Linked DNA regions of Homo sapiens: region 1 is linked to region 2. A link means that fine-mapping ties the variant in region 2 to the expression of a gene that starts in the linked region. Tissue or cell type: monocytes after LPS. Region 2 holds a variant in brackets; the other region holds the start of a gene. All regions are shown on one strand. Distances are from middle to middle.

Region 1 (10,755 bases), 48 kb before region 2:
CATGTTGGCCAGGCTGGTCTTGAACTCCTGACCTCATATGATCTGCCCGACTCAGCCTCCCAAAGTGTTGGGATTACAGGCGTGAGCCACCACACTGGGCCCAAGGCATTATTGGTTAATGCTCCAATTCCCTGGACATCCACATTCATGTTCCTCTTGCAGAAATGTCTAAGAAATTCTAAAAAGAAAGGAATGATTATGTAAACATACCTAACTATGTCAGTTAACTTAGGCAACAACTACGTGGCACCCAGTCAAAACAGACATCACTAAATCCATGGAGTAAAAATTCCTATACTTTAGTGATAGGAGCCTGTATTTACTCCTTCTAGCAGTTATAAATTTAATAAATCTAGTCTTCTACTTTCTAGTCTATATTAAATTAGAAAAGAGAAGCTGCAAAGGCAAGTGCAATGACAGCATGAGTAATTGAAACCTGAGAGCACGGAAGTAGAAAAATCATAAAACAAATAAAAATTTAATATTTATACTACTCGATGGTCATCTAATAGGCCAGGAAAAAGCTGACCTATATTATGACTATGATTCATCAAAAAAAAGCCTGCTGGGCGCCGTGGCTCATGTCTGTAATCCCAATACTTGGGAAGGATAAGGCGGGTGGATCACTTGAGGTCAGGAGTTTGTGTCCTGTCTGGCCAACATGGTAAAACCCCATCTCTACCAAAAATACAAAACTTAGTCAGGCGTGGTGGTGGGTGCCTGTAATCCCAGCTACTGGGGAGGCTGAGGCAGGAAAATCGCTTGAACCTGAAATGTGGAGGTTGCAGGGAGCCAAGACTGCACCAGTGCGCTCCAGGTGATGGAGTGAGGTAATATTTTAGAAAGATTAAATAACTAATGAAGAGGCAGGAGAAAGAATCGGAGATAATTCCCATGTTTCTAGAACTAGAATAAGTAGATTAGTAGTATCATTACACTGTAATATAATGCAGTACAGGGCAGTAGTTTAAAATCCATGTCCTAGAATTAGTTTCCATAGTCACTTGCGTGACTTTTGTTTCCTCATCTATAAAAACACCCTACCAGTGCCGACTCAAAGGGTTGTTGTAAGGGTTAAATGATTTAGAACAGTACCGTAGACAGAAGAAGCAACAATAAATGTTAGCTATAACTGTAACAGGTTGTTAGGGTGCAGTCACTGAGCTTAGTATGGGTCATGTTGAGTTGGGTATCTGAAGGGCACTGAGCAGCTACAAGCATCAGCTCCATTTTCAGATCCTTGGATCCAAATACCAGTTCTATCTGCCAGCAGATTCACCTCTATGGATATCAACTTCCTAATCTTTCACAATAATAAGAGTAAATCACTCACAGTGTTTTTATAAAGATTAAATGAGAATATGCAAATAAAATACTAGGCACAATGCCTAGCACATGGCAAGCCCTTCAAAAACAACAACTGTTATTACTGTCACGTGTGTGTGTGTTTACGTATATAATCATATTATGTTTGTTAGGCAATCTACTAATCCAGCAGGGAGACAATAGGCTGAAGATTTGGGAGTTATTTATAAATATGATAGTTCCAAGAAAATAAAAAGCCAATGAGAATCCTGTGAGCCTACAATATAAAGTAAAATCAGGGAGATAGGTGAAAAACTGGGAGATAGAAGCATTACAGAAGCAAACCCAAGTTTTAAAGGAGATGTTGCCTATATACTGTGTGGCATCAAAAGGGGCTGGAGGTTTTGAAGAAAGTCCACTGAATCTGCAAGTAGGAAGTCACGTGTGTCAAAGCTGTTTATAGAGGGGCAGAAACTTAGCAGGCTGGGGCTAAGGAATGAATGGAAGGTGACACCTGTAGAAGGGACATGTAGACAATTCTTTACAGAATTCTTCCAACTGTCTTCCCATCACCCCCAAAGGCAGTGACATGAGACAGTAACTCTGAGGGACAAAAACACTGTGGAAGGATTATGCTTTTTGTTTTAAGATTGTTTCCACGCCGCTATCACCTTTCCCTTAAAAAAAAAATCATCATCTACACAGCAACTAGTGTAATTTTCTAAAATTCAAATGTGATGGTGTCGTTTCTTCGCTTAAAATTCTTCACTAGCTCCCAATCGCACATTGAAAAAAATATCAAGTCCTTACCAGTGAGGTCCAAGGCCATTTATGAAATGTCCCCTTCACACATCCACTGTGTTCCAGACATGTGAAACTACCTGCAGGCCTTCACGTGTGCCAAGTTCTCTCTTGCTTTTGTATCATTACACACATATCCCCTCCCCTGAAAAATGTGCTTCCTCCTTTGTCTCTCTAACAAACTCCTCACTATCCTTTAAAGGCAAATGATATCTTCTCTAGAGAGCATTCTCACCTTGAAGGGCATTTAAGAACTTCTCTTCTGTGCTTCCAGGGTGCCTTAATCTTTGTAGCTCCCTCTACCTCAACCTTGAATTTTCACCCTGGTAAAATGTTCTGTAACTCCCACCAAACTGCTAGCTTTGGAGGACCAAGCCAATGCTCTCTTATAGTTATGTATCTGCCACTATGAAAGAAAAGAGAGGAGAAGAAGAGAGAAGCGAAGTGAAGAGAAGCAAAAGCAAAGCGAGTAAAAAAGACTCAGGCTTGAGCTCTAGTGTCACCACTTACTGATGTGTGGCCTTGGGCAAGCTACTTAATTTCTAATCCTTGGTTTTTCCTTGTCTGGGAATTTAAAATGGCACCTATTTTAGTACTGTAAGGAGAAGAGAAAATACCAAAAAGCAAAGTAATCAGTACATTGCAATAAAATTACTTTATGTCCATTATTATTGTATTAAAAATAAGTAAATAATTACAAATAAAATATATAAATCATATACTTATTTACTATTAACAGCTTAATACACAACTAAACTAATAAATACTAATATTATGTAATGATAACACAGCAAATACAGTACAGAAATCATCTCTAATTTTTTTTTTTTGGAGACAGAGTCTCGCTCTGTTGCCCAGGTTGGAGTGCAGTGGCACAATCTCAGCTCACTGCTGCCTCCGCCTCCTGGGTTCAAGCAATTCACCTGCCTCAGCCTCCCTGGTAGCTGGGACTACAGGTGTGGGCCATCACACCCAGCTAATTTTTGTATTTTTAGTAGAGATGGGGTTTCACCAACATTGGCCAGGCTGATACTGAACTCCTGACCTCAAGTGATCCACCCACTTTAGCCTCCCAAAGTGCTAGGATTACAGGCGTGACCCACTGCGCTCAGCCATCTCTAAATCTTAATATGTACTACAGCAAACATGATAGAATTAACGGCTAATATTTGATTAGTAACCTCTGCAAAAAATCAGATAGGACTTTAAAAGACACCTCTGATTCTTATATATTCCATTATTTTACAACTTCTCCCTCACAAACCCTTTCACAGGAGCGTCTAAGAGATATTACACAGGAAAATTAAATGGATTACATTTCATCTCATTTTATTTTACAGACAACCTGATTATCAGCCAATATGTGGCTCAATATCATTGGGAGAAAAAACTGAGAGGCTTGATAATTCGCTCCTTAACCAAATGTTATCGCAAGGGAAAAAAAGACAAACAAAAATCCTGTATACAAAATTCAATGAATAAATCAACAAGATTCTTCATAAGTAAACAAGATTCTAACTTCATAAATATTATTCCTCATAAACAAGATTCTAGGTATGGTTTAAAAACACTTTTGGTATTTGAATTTCTTTCAAGCATTCTTTAAAAAATTTCCCAGAGTACTCATAAGAAGCAATCTTCCTCCTAACGCCCAAGCAGTAACAGCAACTGTTAATGCAACAGGTGAAAAAATCGTTGGCATCTCTTTCTCAAAAGAAAGGGGAAAGCTTTATTTTCACAATAGATGTTTTTACAGGAATGCTAAACGCAGCACAACCTTTGATAAGGATTCTTAAATGGTCTACATTTTTGTTCTATTTTTATGCATCTCGAAACAACCCTATTAATATAATTTGGCTCTTATAAATATAACAAATTGATCACCTTTTCTCAGACATAATTAAGAAGGCTTTGACAGGTTGAAGATTCAGCCCCAGGTTGACACTCTAAAAGGAAATAAACACACTCAGTACACATCTGATTTAAAAGCATTTAAATAAGAATCGGGAGTAGGAAAGGCAAAGATTGAATTCTCTATCAGAGCACCATGCTCAACTCTCCGGGGACACGGAGACCAGTGAAAGAAGCGCAAAAGTACGGTGAGGACTCTCAGAAATCGCATTCCCCCGGGACACCCGGCCCACGCTCGTCGGTCACTACGCTATCAGCCTCCGCGCTCTCGGACTCCAGCAGCCCCGACACGCCGCCCAGGAGAGGGCCGGGCAGGCCGAGCACCCCGGCCCGCGCTCCCGCCACCAGCGCACCCATGATGTACTCACGGAGAGGGGTACGCAGAACCGCCCGTCCCGCCGGAGCCGACACCCGGAGCAGTGCAAATCAACTCCCCCAGCCTAGCGGCGCGTGCGCGAAGTGAGGCGGCCACGCAGCCACCTAACCCGCCAGCGACCCGTGTCCTGAAAGCAAGCCGCGGCTCTGTGCCGCAGTGCGGACAGCGCGCCGCCTGCTGACGTCAGCGCCTGCCTACGCCGCCGTTCCCATGGCGACCGATGCGTCCCGCGCTCTAGGCGAAGACCGCGGCCCCGTCCCCGCGCCTCCACCGCCTTCTTCCAGGAGGAGGGGCCGTGCGGCGCCTGCCCGGGGGCCCTCAGGCCGCAGGCGGGCGCGAGCTTCAGGGAACTTAGGGGGCTCCCGCCTCCCCGGCCACGCGAGCGGGAACAGTCTCCTCCACTCGGAGCGGTAAGGGACCCGGAAATGCGCGGGTGCCCCTACAGAGTCTTGAGTTTTCCCCGCCCTCACCTCCGAAAATGCTCTTTTCGCCTTAGAATTGTAGCTAGCGCAGGGAAAAACTGACTGGGCAAAGGAAAACTGGGGAGGCTGTCATGGAAGCCGCCCAGAATAAGAAAATGAATGAATGAGGCAAAGAAACAGATTTGTCACTCCCCACGCGATCGCGCCCACAAAAGAAAACATGGTTTTAAGGCGTGGAAAATGAAGTTGTACTACAGACAAAATTTTAAGAAAAAATTATCCACTGTTCCTTTAGAGCTATCTCCCTGTGTGTGAAAAACAAAACAAAAGTTAAAACGCCATCCTTTTCTACACCTAATGCTCCCTCCCACTTTTCTGATTTCTGCCACAGGCGCCATCTTCAGCTCTGAGTCACCAGGGCTGGAAAAATACTAGATGCGCTACTCGTGGACTCGTGAATACACTCGTGAATACAGGCCATTTCCTGTACCTACAGCCACCCGCTGTAAGCTGTTGCTTCATTTGTACAGTAAGAGTTTATGGAGGCCAGCTTTTCCATTCTTACTGACATTGCCACACCTTACAAACTATATGTCTTGTGCTTCCCTAAATCCTGTGAGGAAGCAACGAGAAAGATTACTAATCCAATGCGTACCGAACTGAGCTGTTCAACTTTCCGTTCTAAACATACTCTCCTAGATTTCTATCTTGCTGTAAGCCACCACAATCCTCCCAGTGTTTTAGTAAGAACAGTAGAGTATCCTAAATGCATCTTATGCCAAAGCATATCCATTCTCTCTTTTTAACTTCCTCAGATGGGCCCTTTACCAGTTCTCTGACTCCAGTTTGACTCTTAAATTCTCCACACTGCTATCAGAATGACCTGACTAAAAATGTAAATCGGATAATGGCACTCTCCTGCTGAAAATTTTTGAAAGGCAATCTGTAAGAGAAAATGATTACTTTGCCTAGGATACAAGATTCTCCATCTCCCTGACTAGTTTCATCTCTCGTTAGCTTCTTGTTCCAATTTTATGCAATATTGAATCATGTGTACCATGCAGTTTTATGCAACATTGAATTATGTGTACCATGAAAAACAATCCATAGCCTTTCACGCCCCGTCCTTACTCATATTGTCCTCTCTTCCTGAAAATTCCTCCTTTTACACTCCTGCATCACAGCCAAATGTTGTCCATCCTTTGAATCTTAAGCAGGTTGACTGACTCCTTCAAACACTCCTACTCCCTATTAGACTTCGGATACTCATTCTATATATTAGACTTTGGATGCTCATTCTATAGTTTCATAGTTTACTTTGTATTTTCTCTATCCCCAGCATCTACCACAGTGTCTATGAAATAGTTGGCATTTCATGAACATTTGTTGAATGAATAATGGATAACATATATTGAGCTCCTTCTAGGAGGTATGCATTGTAGGTGTTTTATGTACTTTTCATCTGTCCTCACAACTGCATTTAAGTACCTGCTTTTCCAAAGGGAAGTTATAACTCTGACTGCTCATTCTTAGTAGGGTGTTAGTTTCAGAATACAATCCCCAGACTAGCGGATGTGTAACCCTGTTATCATCTCTTGCTTCTCCATTTACAGTAGCATGCAGAGGTGCAGTGGGGTGGGGGAGGTCAGGGAATATTTCATAGCAGAAGTGACATTTAAGTAAAGACCAAAATAATGTGTAGAGTTGTCCAGGTTAGGAAGGGTTTCCAGGTAGAAGAAGGTGGCGTATAGTGTTCACTACAAGAAAGTTTGGTATAATACAAGAACTGGAAGAAAAAAAAAAAAAGTTCAAGTTGGCTAACTAAAAGGTAGAGAATGAGACTAGGGGCTTTTGGAGGAGACAAAACAAGAGAGTTAAACAAGCTATGAAGAGACCCAGACAGTATTGGTCAGTGGAATACCACTATAGAATTTTATGGAGTGAAATTTTCAAATTTTAATATCATAAAGATAACTCTGGCTGCAGGGTGGAGAACAGACAGGAAGGAAGCAAATCTAGATCTGGGAATACCATTTAAGATGCCGTTGCTGTAAGCCATGTAAGAGACAAAGGTGGCATGGTCAAGGCTAAGAAAAATCAGAATGGAGAGAAATGGACCAATTTGAGAAATTTTTAGGAGGTAAAAATGTCAGGACTTAGTGATTGATTGGATGGAAGAGTGAATGATAAGAAATAATAAAAAACGATGACCAGCTGTTTTGCCTTCCCCTTGGCAAGTAAAGAGGTGGCAAGCATGAAAGGGGAGTGAGGAAATAAATATGTTGGGTCTAATGGGAGCCAGGTTTCTCACTGACAGAGAAGGACGTTACAAATTGAGAGAGGAAGAATTCCACAGTGACCTTTGTGGTGATGTTGAATTGGAATTGAATATGTCAGTGTCAACTCATAGTTTTCAATATATACATAAACATATGTAAAAATAAATATAGAGGAAAGTATGTCTGTATGTGTGTGCGTATCTATCTATTATGCTCTTCCTAGCTCTATCTGCTGAAAGGGTTTCAGAGTAATGGTATACTAGAAGCAATGAGCACATGTGCCTAGATCTTGGTTTCTGAACAGTATTATTCACTAAAAGTAACTGGGTCCCTTGGAGAAATGGTTGATTTTAGAACAGGAGCCTGGAAAATTCTTGTTGCACCAGAAGTTAAGGAAGTTAATACAGAATGAAGAAACATATCAAAAGGTCACAGAAGCCAGCTTGAAGGAGCCACCACTGGCCACATCTGGGTCAATCTGAGCACCAATATAATGTTAATGGATTATAGTCCGCTAAATAAAATAGGAATATTTGAGCCCATACTAAAATGAATAAATGATTTTTTTGAAAAATCAGGATAAAGAAAAGCTCTGCCTTACATAAAAATGCCAACTAAATGTAATGAATGTAGACAGTGTTATATGTAGAAACATCATTATTTGGCAGTCATGATAGTAACAGTTGATTCAGACTAGAATCATCAGTGTATGCTAAAACTAGAGGGTGAGAGTATTAAGAGACATATAATATTTATATAGTCTCAAAGTATCTCTCCAGCAAATACTTATTAATTACACAGAGAAAAATTAGAAAACTTGACAGTGTAGAAATCTGGCACTGGTGAGCGAAGTTACCATCAGCAGTCATGAGACAAATCAGCATCGTGTATGTCCTGGTTAGAGGCACTTAGAATACACTTCTGTGACATTCCTGCCAAAAATGTGTAATCCGAATCAATCGTGAGGAAAAAATCAGACAACCCAAATGTCCCAAATTGAGGGACATTCTACAAAATAATAGACCTGTACTCTTCAAAGATCAAGGTCATGAAAGACAAAGGAACAACTAAAGAACGTTTTTAGATTGAAGGAGAATTAAGATACATGACAATTAAGTGGAATACATGATTCTGAATTGAATCCTTTTGCTATAAGGATATTATTGGGACAACTAACAATTTGAATGGGGTCTCTGGATTAGATGGTAGTATTTTAACAATATTAATTTCCTGATTTTGATGACTATAGTGACATAGATATTTTTGGTTTTAGAAAATACATATTGAAGTATTAAAGGTGATGAGGCTTCATATCTGCAACCTATTCAAATGGTTCAGGAAAAAAGTATACATAAATACTGTAAATAAATATAAACATAAATAATATACATAAAGAAAATGATAAAGCAAATGTTAACAGGGAATTTGGGCGAAAGCAGAAGTTCTTTATACTATTCTTGCAATTTTTCTGTAAGTTTATAATTATTTTAAAACTATAAAAGAAGTTTGAAAGGTGCCGAGGTTTCTGGCTCAGGTAACTGGGTGGAGAATGGCTAATCAGTTAACGACAAAAAATCAGGAAGAGCAAGCATGGAGGAAAAGATGTTTAGTTGCAATGGGATGTATGGAGTGGGATGTTCAGCAGGCAGTTGAGTATATACTAAACATATTAATGAGCCCCATTCAAACTGAATAAAGCAGATATGTTGCTTTAGCTCTCATTAGTCGAGAGTGCAAGACCAAGGGCACTCCGCTATCCTAGGAGAGGCAAACAATTAAGAGTGGTAGTATGGTAATAATTCTAAAAATTGGCTGAGTATCCATGAAAAAAATTGTGTGTATATATATATATATACACACACATATATGTATAAACATATATACACACATATATGTATAAATATATATCCACATATATGTATATATATACACACATATATGTATATATACACACATATATGTATAAATATATATACACATATATGTGTATGTGTGTGTGTGTGTGTATATATATATGTATGTATATAAATTGAACCGTTTAGGAATAAAATAGATTTAGGGTATTCGACACATTTAATACATAATGAATAGTGAATTTCTTGAATAATATAATGCCTAAATGTGACTGATATGCAAAATATTTAAATCCCTTACAGGATGTGCATTTACCAATCAGAACAGATGTTGGCTTTACTGCTTGTATTAGTTTTCTGTATTAGTTTGCTTGTATTAGTTTGCTGGGGCAGCCATAACAAAGTACCACAGAAATTTATATTCTCACAATTCTGGGGGCTAGAAGACTGAGATAAAGATGTCTGCAGGGTTGGTTTCTTCTAAGGACTCTCTTGTTGGCTTGTAGATGGTTGTTGTCTCCCTGTGTCTTCACCTGCACTTCCCTCTGTACCTGCCCGTATCTTAATCTCTTCTTATAAGGACAGAGTCATATTGGATTAGGGCTCACCCTAATGACCTCCTTTTAACTTAATTACCTCTTTAGAGACTCTGTCTTCAAATACAGGCACATTCTGAGGTACTTTAAGGTTAGAACTTCAACATATGCATTTGGAACTGGGGCATAACTGAGTCCATGACACTATTGGAGAGGGTTCTGGAGCCATAACAGATGGAATGAATGGGCCTTGTTTGGATTCTAATTTAAATAAACCAACTATAGAAAAACATGTTTTAGGCAATCAGATTTTTTGTTATGGGCTAAATATTTAGAAGATGTTAAGAAATGTTTATTAATTTCATTAGGTAAAATAATGTTGGTGTGGTTATGTAGAGTATGACTTACGTGCACAGAACAGAATGATAAGGTGTCCAGGATTTGCTTTAAAATATTCTAGATTTTTTTAAAAGGTGAGAGGAAATGACACATGTATATCTAAATTTTGATGGTTGTTGAAGCTGGCTGGTAGGTACCTAGTATTTCATTATACTTTTTCCTTTGTGTGTTTGGAAATTTTTATAATAAGCAGGAAAAATAAAAGTAAGAATATATGTATTATAGATAATTTGAAATATGTAGAATCATGAAAAAAAGGAAAAAATACTCAATACCACTACCCAAGAGAATCTAAATTAACTTTTTTGACAAATTTCGTTTCAGTCTGTTTTCCATGCGTATTTTAATTTTGGTCATGTTGTGTGTAAAATGTTTATTTCTGCTTACTTGAATGAACATTATGTTGCAATTTCATTTCCATGCTATTACAATAGTGCCCCCTTAACCATGGTTTTGCTTTCTGAGGTTTCACTCAACAAGCTTGGTTTGAAAATTTTTAGAGAGAAAATAAGAGATTACATTTACATAATAACTATTAATACAGTATATTGTTATAAAAACTTTATATTGTTATTAGTTATTGCTGTTAATCTCTTACTGGGCCTAATTTATAAATTAAACTTTATGAGAGGTGTGAAAGTTGATTATAGAAATTGGGTCATTCTTGTTGTACCCAACTAAATCAGAGTGAAGGGCCCAGGGGAAAAAGCATTTGGGGCATATAGCATCTGCTCCAAGAATTAAATTTTCCACAAGCCCAGCTACTGAAACTGCCTGTTGTAATCTGAAATCAGTTTTATCTGATAGCTAATGAAATAACCTGCTGTGACACTAAGATTAGTTTTACCCACTGCCATCACTCGCCAATCAGAG
Region 2 (10,755 bases):
GTGATTTGTGTCCCCTCCCCTACTCCTCTGACTTCATCTCCTCTTACTGGTCCACACTTCTGCCCCAGGGCCTTTGCATTTGCTTGTCTTTCTGCTTAAAATACTCTTCCCTATATATTTTGGGGAGCTCATTCTTCTTCTCCTTTAAATCTTTGTTTGAGTGTCATCTTTGCAGAAAGGCTTTCCTTGACCACCGATTTCGATTTAAAGTGACATCTGACTGAGCCAGAAAGAAATAGATTCCCTGAATAGATAAATAATGAGCTCTGAAATTGAATCAGTAATAAATAGCCTACCAACTAAAAAAGCCTCAGGATCTCATGGATTCATAGTAGCATTCTACCAGATACATAAAGAAGAGCTGGTATTATTCTTACAGAAACTATTCCAAAAAATTGAGGAGGGACTTCTTCCCAACTCATTCTATGAGGCCAGCATCATCTTGATACCAAAATTTGGCAGAGACACAACAAAAAAGAAAACTTCAAGCCAATATCCTTGATGAACATTGATGGAAAAATTCTCAACAAAGTACTTGCAAACCGAATCCAGCAGCACCTGAAAAGGTTAATCCACCATGATCAAGTAGGCTTCATCTCTGGGAGACAGTGTTGGTTCATGAATAAATGTGATTCATCACATAAACAGAACTAAAGACAAAAACTACATGATTATCTCAATAGATGTGGAAAAGACTTTTGAAATAATTCAACATCCCTTCAAGTTAACAAGTCTCAAAAACTAGGTATTGGAGGAGCATGTTTCAAAATAATAAGAGCCATCTATGACAAACCCACAACAAACATCATAGTGAACAGGCAAAAGCTAGAAGCATTCCCCTTGAAAACTGGCACAAGACAAGAATGCCTTTTCTCACCACTGCTATTCAACATAGTATTGGAAGTCCTAGTCAGAGCAATCAGGCAAGAGAAAGAAATGAAGGGCATTCGAATAGAAAGAGAATTCAAAGTATCTCTGTTTGCAGAAGGTATGATTCTATATCTAGAAAACTCCATAGTCTCAGCCCAAAAGCTCCTTCAGCTGAAAAACAACTTCAACAAAGTTGCAGGATACAAAATCAATGTACAAGAATCACTAGCATTCCTACACACCAACATCAACCAAACTGAGACTCAAATCAGAAAGGCAATCCAATTCACAATTGCCACACATACAAAATAAAATACCTAGGAACACAGATAAGCAGGGAAGTAAAAGATCTCTACAATGAGAACTACAAAACACTGCTCAAATAAATCAGAGAAGACACAAACAAATGTAAAAACATCCCATGCTCATGGGTAGGAAGAAGCAATATCTCTAAAATGGCTATACTGCCCAAAGCAATTTCCAGATTCAATGTTATTCCTATCAAACTACCAACTTCATTTTTCACAAGGCTAAACAAAATTATTTAAAAATTTATGTGGAACCAAAAAAAGAGCCCGAATAGCCAAGGCAATCCTAGGCAAAAAGAACAATGCAGGAGGCGTCATGTTACCCGACTTCAAACTATTCTACAAGGCTACAGTGACCAAAACAGCATGGTACTGGTACAAAAGCAGGCAAATAGACCAATGGAACAGAATGGAGACCCCAGAAATAAGGCTGCATATCTATGACCAACTGATCTTCGACAAAACTGATAAAAATAAGCAATGGGGAAAAGACTCCCTTTTCAATAAATGGTGCTGGGATAACTGGCTAGCCATATGCAGAAGATTGAAGCTGGACCTCTTCCTTATACCCTAAAATCAATTCAAAATGGATTAAAGACTTAAATGTAAAACCTCAAACTATAAAAACCCTGGAAGACAACCTAGACAATACTATCCTGGACCTAGGAATGGGCGAAGATTTCACAACAAAGACACCAAAAGCAATTGCAACAAAAGCAAAAGTTGACAAGTGGGATCTAATTAGGTCAAAGAACTTCTGCACAGCAAAAGAAACTATCATCAAAGTAAACAGACAAGCTACAGAATGGGAGAAAATATTTACAAACTATGCATCTGAGAAAGGTCTAATATCCAGCATCTATAAGGAACTTAAACACATTTACAAGAGAAAAAACAACCCTATCAAAAAGTGGGCAAAGGACGTGACCACTTTCAAAAAGAAGACATGCATATGGGCAAGAAGCATATGAGAAAAAGCTCAATATCACTGATTATTAGAGAAAAGCAATGAAAACCACAATAAGATACCATCTCACATCAGTCAGAATGGCTATTATTAAAAAGTCAAAAAATAACAGATGCGGGGGAGGTTGTGGAGAAAAGGGAATACTTTATTACACTGTTGGTGGGAGTGTAAATTAGTTCAACCATTGTGGAAGGCAGTATGGCATTTCCTCAAAGAGTTAAAAGCAGAACTACCATTTGACCCAGTAATCCCATTACTGGGTATATACCCAGAGGAATATAAATCATTCTACCATAAAGACACATGCACGCAAATGTTTATTGTCTCACAATACCAAAGACATGGAATAAACCTAAGTGCCCATCAGTGACTGACTGGATAAAGGAAATGTGGCACATACGCACCATGGAATATTATGCAGCCATAAAAAAGAATGAGATCATGTCTTTTGTGGGAACATGGATGGAGCTGGAGACTGTCATCGTTAGCAAACTAACACAGGAACAGGAAACCAAATACTGCATATTCTCACTTATAACTGGGAGCTATATGATAAGAACTTATGAACACACAGAAGGAAACAACAGACACTGGGGTCTACTTGAAGGGGGAGGGTAGGAGGAGGAAGAGAAGAAGAAAAGATAACTATTGGGTACTCTGTTTAATACCTGGGTGGTGTAATAATATGTACAACAAACCCCTATGACATATGTATATCTATGTAACAAACCTTCACATATACCCCAAAACTAAAATAAAAATTAAAAAAATTAAAAAAATTAAAATTCATGAAAAAAAAAGTGACACCCAACACTTCCTAACCCATGTCACTGCTTTATTTTTCTATTTTCTTCATTCATTCATTCATAAGTTCCATGAGAGCAGGGCTTTTTCTCTTTTGTTTTCTGCTACAGGAACAGTAAGTGCCTAGAACAATAAGTGGTGATTAAGAACTAGCTCCTTGCTGAATAAATGAAAGAATATGTGTATTATCCCAAACCATAATGTTTCTTGGTGTCAGTAACACTGGGAGTGGGCACTGACCACGTGGTCCACATGCAGAATATGCACAGCTATCCTCGCTGGTGACCTTCTTGCTTTGTGGATGTCAAAGAAAGTAGACAGCTATATGGACTCTGCCACCTGGATAACTCTAGAGGTGAGTGGTAGGGGTTATGAACAGCACTGAGGAGCTGGGAGTGGCTGTTTGTTGGGTTTCTAGCTTCAGGACAAGTTCTATGAGTTTCCTGAGCCCTCATGATCTAAAACTATGAAGCATGATGGTGCTGGGGTGAATACTCATTGTGTTGCTTGCTCGGTACTCACTATCCTAACTTTGTTCTGAAGGACCCATTTCTCCCTCACTCTGTGTGTTTCAAGTAAAATATGTACTGAAGAAAATGCCACCTATTTTTATAAATACTGTGAACTAAGAATGATTTTTATATTTTTAAGTGGCTTCAACAAAAATCAAAATAATAATATCTAAATTTCAGTGCCCATAAAGTTTTATTGTAACTTAGCCATGCTAATCCATTTATGCATGGCTGCTTTTGCTCTACAATGGTGGAGGTCAGTAGTTGTGACAGAGACCATGTGGCCTGCAAAGCCATAAATATTTACTATCTGGTCCTCTATGGCAAAAGTTTGCCAGCCTCCACCTCAGACTGTCGCTGTGGTTAGAGTCCTATGATCACAGTGGGTGGTTCAGCACAAGACCCAGGTTTAAACGTCTGGTCTTTTCTTTGAACTACTTGGGAAGCTAGCTCTAGCTAGCTAGCTAGCTAGCTAGCTCTTCTGCTGCCTCAGGTGAGAAACTGAGGATGTCAGGAAGCATCAGGCAGCCCCTAAGGATGAGGTCGTAATCAAGCTTGATTGAAACCATTCCAACTCTAGAATTTTCAGCTGTGCCAATCAATACATTTTCTTTAATCTTAAATTAGCTAGCATTTTAAGATCTTTGTTGCTTACAGCCAAAGAAACTTAACTGATAAAGTCATTTGGAAGAAATCCTACTCCAGGTATACAGGGAACAGAATTAATGAGTTCCCAAGATGATTGCCTTATGGTGGCAACAGCAGTTGCCTGGCAGAAGATAGGAAATCTGTCTTAATAGTGCCTTCTAGGACCCAAATTTGTCCTGCTCTGGTAGAAATCCTAGAAGATCAGGAATACAGGAGATGCAATTAGTGTTTAGGATCTTCATTTAACAGCACACATCTGTGTCTTCCCTTGGCATAAATACTGGGAGAATGCAGTACTCAGGATTTTTATATCCTCTTATTGGAATTACCCACATAATATATGATTTATTGCCTATAGACTTCTCAATTTCTATGTACACAATAGCAGCACTACCATATTTTTTAATTCAAATGAAATGCATGAAGATGTTTGGGTAGAAGTAATAGAAAAGTTTAGTAATGAATAATGTTTCATTATTCTGTCTATTTTCTGAACATCAGTCATTATCAAATATAGACTCATAATCAAATAATAATACATACACCTACAATATTTTGATTATGATGTTTTTAGAAACATACATCTCTTTTCCCTCCTACTGATTAATCTCCTTGCTGTTTAAGCAGCAAAGCTGCTTTCCACTCAGTATCTCAGGGAAAGGATATGACATGGTAGACAACAGAAAACAAATGAAACAACTCCCCCACACTCCCCAAATTCAGGAAACTTCCTGGCAAAAAGCTCACTCCTTTAGGACAATAGAGAGTCTCTGGGTAGAGCCAAATTATATAAGAGAAACATCAAGGGTGACTGTTGCTTTCGCCTTCTGGAGAGGAAAAGATTCCCAGGGGTTTA[T/C]ATAGAAAAGGAAGGGGAAAAGAGGGAACAGGGAGGATGTGGTGGCAGTGCGTTTGGATGGGTTTCAAAGAGGGAGCCCCAGTTCCATCAAGGACCTTGGAGCCCCTGGAGGCTTCTCCCTCGGGTTCTGTGGGGCCAAGGAGAGGCGTCCCCTCAATCCCACCTGGATTCCCTGCTGGATCAGCCCTAGAAGGAAGCTTCCTGGGGCTGCTCCCACTTCTGCTTAAGTGTGGCTACACCGTGGAGGGTGGGTCCTTAGGAATGTGGCAAGGGCAGCAAGATTGAGGGGGCCATAGTGGTGCGGGCATGTGGAGGGGGCACAGGCTTTGGCCCGCGGGCCTGTGTTCCTATCCCTCCCTCTGTCGTTCCCTGTGACCAATGGGCGGAGGGCCCATTCTTGGCAGAAACCCAGGGAAGTGGCAAAATTCCCAGACAGTGTTGTGAGAGCAGTAGAATGTTCACAACCTCCTACCCTTGCCCTAGCATCAGGGTTTGACAGAAAAATTAGATTGAATGAAATAAAAATATTTCTCACCCACTTGCGTTCATGGATGGAGATTGATGACCTTCTAGGTCAGACACATTTGTTTCCATTAGTGTGGAAAATCAAGAGTTGACTTCACTCCTCAGTTCTTCCAAGGGTGACAGTTAAATTTTGGCTGCACACCAGCAGCCAATGGCATGCAAGTGTTAGAGCAGGTTATCTGCATTTCATGTGCTGGATTTTGCTTCACTGCAATGCACTATTGTTCATTTTGAAGAACTGCTTTTTCTTCATTTGATTATGAAGTCCATTCTTCACTGAGAAAGGGTGAATCACTGGGTTTCATTATGGAGCTCTTGAAGTTCAGGGAGAGCGATTTTCATACTAAGTTCATTTTCTTTAACATATAACCAGTGAAATAATAGAACAAAAATACATTTATCTTTTATAATTGTTTCCCTCCTCTAAGACATAACAGTATTAACATAACAGCTATACTGCATAATTCTTCTTCAACCAAAGAACAAGAAGATTAATCTATTCTATTTATTTATAAAATCTCCTGATATTTCTGATACTGGTTTTTCCCGTCATTCACCTGGTGGAAAAAGCAAGGTGGGGAAATAAACGATGGTGACAGCTTTTTGCTGGCAATGCAGAATGAGGCCCTTGATGTTATTGTGGCCCAAGGGAAAGTGTGAGTACTATATTCATCAGCAGTTCTCAATCGGGCTATTTTGCACATTAGGGGCTATTTGGCAATTTTGGGAGATATTTTTGATTGTCAAAACTGGTGAGGTGGGTAAGGTGGAAGGTATGCTACTGGCATCTAGTGAGAAGCGAGATGAAGCTAAACATCCTACAATGCAGAAGATAGCCCCAGCCCCTGGCAAATAGTTATCTGGCCCAAAATGTCAATAATAATTCCAAGGTTGAGAGACTCTGATATAAAGTAATCAGGAAAGGAGGAAAGATCTGAGTATGTTAGGATGATTGGCAGGGTTTTTGCAGACTGAGAAGAGCCATATGGACATTTGTTGAAAAAGGGGGAAAGAGAGACACCTGAAGAGTTGGATAATTCTTTTATACTATGTAAGGCATATTTTAAAGGGCTACCGTTTTTAGAGGGTACGTTCTTACCAACTTTTTAAGGAGAGGATAAAATTCTGTGAAATCAATATTATGGTTATTAAAAGCACAAAAGGACCATAATTGTTTCATGATTTGTCTTGCTAATTTCACATACTATGATGTTTTATGTGCTGAGTGGAGATAAATGTGTAAACAAAAATACGAAGGTGACAAAGCATGGTATATTTCTACCTGGCTAGGTTGTATAGGCCAGTGAATGTCTAGGGGAAGGGTGGTCCTGGAGCCAGGTGAGAGAGATCTTGAATGGAAAGTTACAGAGTTTGAATCAATTCATTAGAAATGGAGGCAGGTGTATTATAGGGTTCTCCAGGTAAACAGAATCAATAGGGTGGGGAGGGAGGGAAAGAGAGAGAGAGAGAGAGAGAGATGAGAGAGATTTAGTTTTCAATTGAGGGAGCTGGCAAGTCCTAGATTTGTATGACGGGCAAGCTGGAGATTCAGGTCAGAGTTGATATTGCAATCTTAAGTCTGGAAACTCTTCTGCATCTGGAGGCAGAATTCTTTCTGAGGGCAGTGAGAGGCAATCTATTCCATACTTCTCACCCAGCTTCTTGTTGTTTACTGATCATTTTTGGCGTTCCTTGTAGAAACATCACTCTTATCTCTGCCTTCATCTCATATGATGTTTTCCCTCTGTGGTTGTCTGTGTATAAATTTCCCCATTTTTTTCTATAGACACCAGTTATATTGGATTAGGGCTCACCCCAGTGACCTCATGTTAACTAATTATAGCTTCCACAGCCTTATTTCCAAATAATGTCACATTATGAAATACTGAGGGTAAGGACTTCAACATATGAATATGTCAGAGGCAGACAGTTTCACCTGTAACAGGGGGTTTGCATAGAGCAGTGACATTTTCTGAATTGTTCCATGCTGGCAACATTGCCCAGTTTTCTTCTCAGGGACATCAGTTATAGGAAAATGCTATAGTGAAGGCAAATGGGACAGAATCTTAAAATATTTGTGAATCTTTGTTTTTTCTTGTTCTAATGATAATGTAAATGTAGAAAACACTAACACATTGTAAAACACAGAAAGCAAAATAGGTATTATACTGCTCAGTTATGATACTGCTCATAACCCAATTTATCAGTAATAGTATGTCTATATTTAAATATCTAAAAGGACTATTTTTTAAAAAATATGGGTCTTGCTACTTTGCCCAGGCTAGAGTGCCGTTTGGCTATTCACAGGTGCAATCATAGTTCACTGCAGCCTTGAACTCCTGGCCTCAAACAATCCCCCCACCTCAGCCTCTCAGCCTCACGCGCAGCTGGGGCTACAGGTACGCTCCACTGAGCCCAGCTATGGAATATCTATTTTTAATAAAAATGTGAATCATAGCATACGTACTGTTCTGTTATTATCCCTTGTTTTCTTTTGGACATTTTGGACACCTTTTCGTGTCAGAACATAAAGACCTACTAATTCTTTTTTATTTACTGCCTAGTATTTCATTGAATGAATGTGCTATATCTGTTTAACCAATCCCTTATTGAGTGCCATTTGGGTTATTTCTAAATTTTTACTTTTACAAGAAATATTACAGTGAATGTCATTGAACATATATCTTTGTACAGTAAGTAATTTTTTTTGCTGGGTATTTTTTTTTTTGCTGGGTATATTTTTAGGGATAGAATTGTTGAGCCAAAAGGTGTGATCATTTTAAACTATAACAGACATTTCAAATGCAAAAATGCTGCATCAAATTTTTTTCCCTCCCACTAAAAACATATGAATTAGATTAGTAATTCCTACATAGAAAGAATTAAATAGACTACACTGATAGTGTATTTAATGACACTATGCCAGCACAATAATTCCTGTAATAATCAAAGAATAGTTACCATTGTTTTATTAATATACACTTATTTGTCCTCCATAGAGCTCTTGTTAATAAATCTTAGCTTATTGCTAAGATTTGGGACTTCTTCCAGATGGAGTTTATGATTAAATGCTAATCACATTGTTACCGAAGTGTTCAGCTTTATTCATTATTTGTTTGATGTTTGCCATAAAAATTACAGCCCTTATAACCCATTATTTTGGTTTCAACTTCTCAAAATAAATTGAAATATATGTTAAAAACTTAATGTTTGATTACTGTTTAAAATGCTAAAAAATATGATCCAAAGTATCAGTGCTTAGAACTAGAAAACCCAAATAGCTTTAATCCTTTTTGGGGGCTTTCTTTTCACCCCCGTGATGTGTGGGTGTGTCAAACGTGGATTCCTTCCTGTTGTTCTGTTTGCTGGAGCAAAGAATCATGTCTTGATAAATTCACAAGACTAGTGAATTTCATCTAGTGTAATATTGAGGAGTCCAGATCATGGAGAAGGTGTGGCTAGGACTGGTACCCCCCAAATACTGTCATCTCCAATCACAATTCTGGAAAACAGTTTGATATAAGAACATCAATGAAATGGTAATTTATTACACCAGTAGAGTGGAGCTCAGCTATGGAGACACAAAGCCTGGTGAGACTTGGAAATCCTGGGCTTAGGCCGTCAGTTTCTGGGGTCTGTTAAGAGGATGCAGAGTGCCAGCCACAGAGCTGAGTGTCAGAGAAGGGCTATAGAATAGGGGAGGAGGAATAGAAGAGCCACTTGGTGTTCTTGTTGTAGGAGGCACATTAACACATCAGAAATGTTCCAACAGAGACCAAGCTAACAAACTGGAGACCATGAAATGCAGATAGTCTCTGGAGACTACACATCCAATGTCTGAATTTTCTAATTTACTTTTCAAGGCAAAGTCATTGATACCATGTTTTTCTCCACAATATTTTTGCCTGTACCAACCAAGAGATAACATACGGCACTTCCTAAAACAATACGATTGCCTTCTGGATTTTCTTCCAAATCAGTGATACCTGTTCTCCAAGTTTTGATGATGACACTGTCTTTAGCTTATCAGAAGGTGGCCATGGAAGATGCTCAGTCAACGAGCAAGATTCATATTTCTTCCTGAAATGGTTTTGAAATAGTTGTTGCGGGAAATGTGAAGGGATTGTGGTCATGCAGTCATGTCACCAGAAATAACCAAATTTATCCGCAGCTGTTGTCAGATACAATCAATAGCAAGATAAGCCTCAATTTCAAAGATATTAAAATGTGAAACTTAGAATTGAATGAATTATTAAAATGTGAATCTTAGAACTGAATGAAATATAGTAATGTGAAAAAATTTAAAATCGAATAGAGCTTTTTTTTAAAAACATGGATCTTGCTGTGTTGCTCAGGCTAGAGTGCAGTGGCTATTCACAGGTGCAATTATAGTTCACTGCAGCCTTGAGATGGCTTCATTAATTATTTCCTTTAATCATTCAGCAAATATTCACTGAACATCTTTATGTACAAGACCTTGTGGTAAAACTTGCCACCCATTTTTATTTGTTGCTTATGCCTCCTTCTAGGTTTCTTAATTAGCTTAGCTAATAGTTTATGAAATGTATTTTTTATTCCAAAGACTGAACTCTTCTATTTCTCTATTAGTTCTGCTATTTTCTATTTCATTATTTTTGTTTTAATTCTTGTTTCCTTTCTTTTATGTTTTTTTACAACTGTTTAATTTAAATGTCTTATAAACTTAGTTGTAATCTTAATTATTTAGATATATAAGTATTTAAATACATACATTTCTCTCTGCTCTAGCCATATCCTATTATTTCTATTATGTGGTATTTGAACTACTGGTATTTCCTAGATGCCTTACTATTTTGATTTAGAGTTTTTCCTTTGATGCAAAAGTTGTGTTAGAGAGAAATTAAACTTACATGTAGCAGTATATTTTGTTTTTCTAATTTTGTGATTAATTTCTATATTTGTTGTAGTAGAGGATGTTATCTACATGATTTTTACTTTCAGGAATTTATTCTTTTTTTTGTGGTTTGACATATGGTCAATTTTGAATATGTTTAATGTGTAATTGAAAAGTGCGTTGAGTTTGATTTAAATTAATGTATCTATCTTATTGATTAGGTCATTTGGCTCATTATTTTTTCTTCTACTTAATCTGTATCATGAAGAGATGACTTCGTCTCCCATATTTACTTGTGTTTCTGTGTTTCTTTTTGTATTTCTTGTTTCTATGAATTTTTTTATTATTTGTGCACAAATACTCATAACTGTTAGATTTTTATTGTGGGTTGT

The links. PIP is the estimated chance that this variant, and not a neighbour inherited with it, causes the effect.
Region 1: it holds the start of AHI1, and the variant in region 2 is the best candidate, but not a certain one, in a credible set for the expression of AHI1 in monocytes after LPS (Fairfax 2014, PIP 0.64).

What each region holds. Positions count from the first base shown.
Region 1 is chr6:135,493,198-135,503,952 of GRCh38, forward strand. AHI1 (Abelson helper integration site 1) reads right to left here and starts at 4,543. Exons shown (of 29, transcript NM_001134831.2): 1 at 4,386-4,543; 2 at 3,991-4,052; 3 at 2,617-2,701. AHI1-DT (AHI1 divergent transcript) reads left to right here and starts at 4,604. Exons shown (of 6, transcript NR_152842.1): 1 at 4,604-4,803; 2 at 5,207-5,320. RefSeq lists silencers at 4,254-4,313, 4,664-4,883.
Region 2 is chr6:135,541,570-135,552,324 of GRCh38, forward strand. The region is part of intron 2 of AHI1-DT (AHI1 divergent transcript); the gene reads left to right. Among named protein-coding and RNA genes, the nearest start is that of AHI1-DT, 49 kb to the left of the region's middle. The variant T/C (reference allele first, on the strand shown) is at 4,966.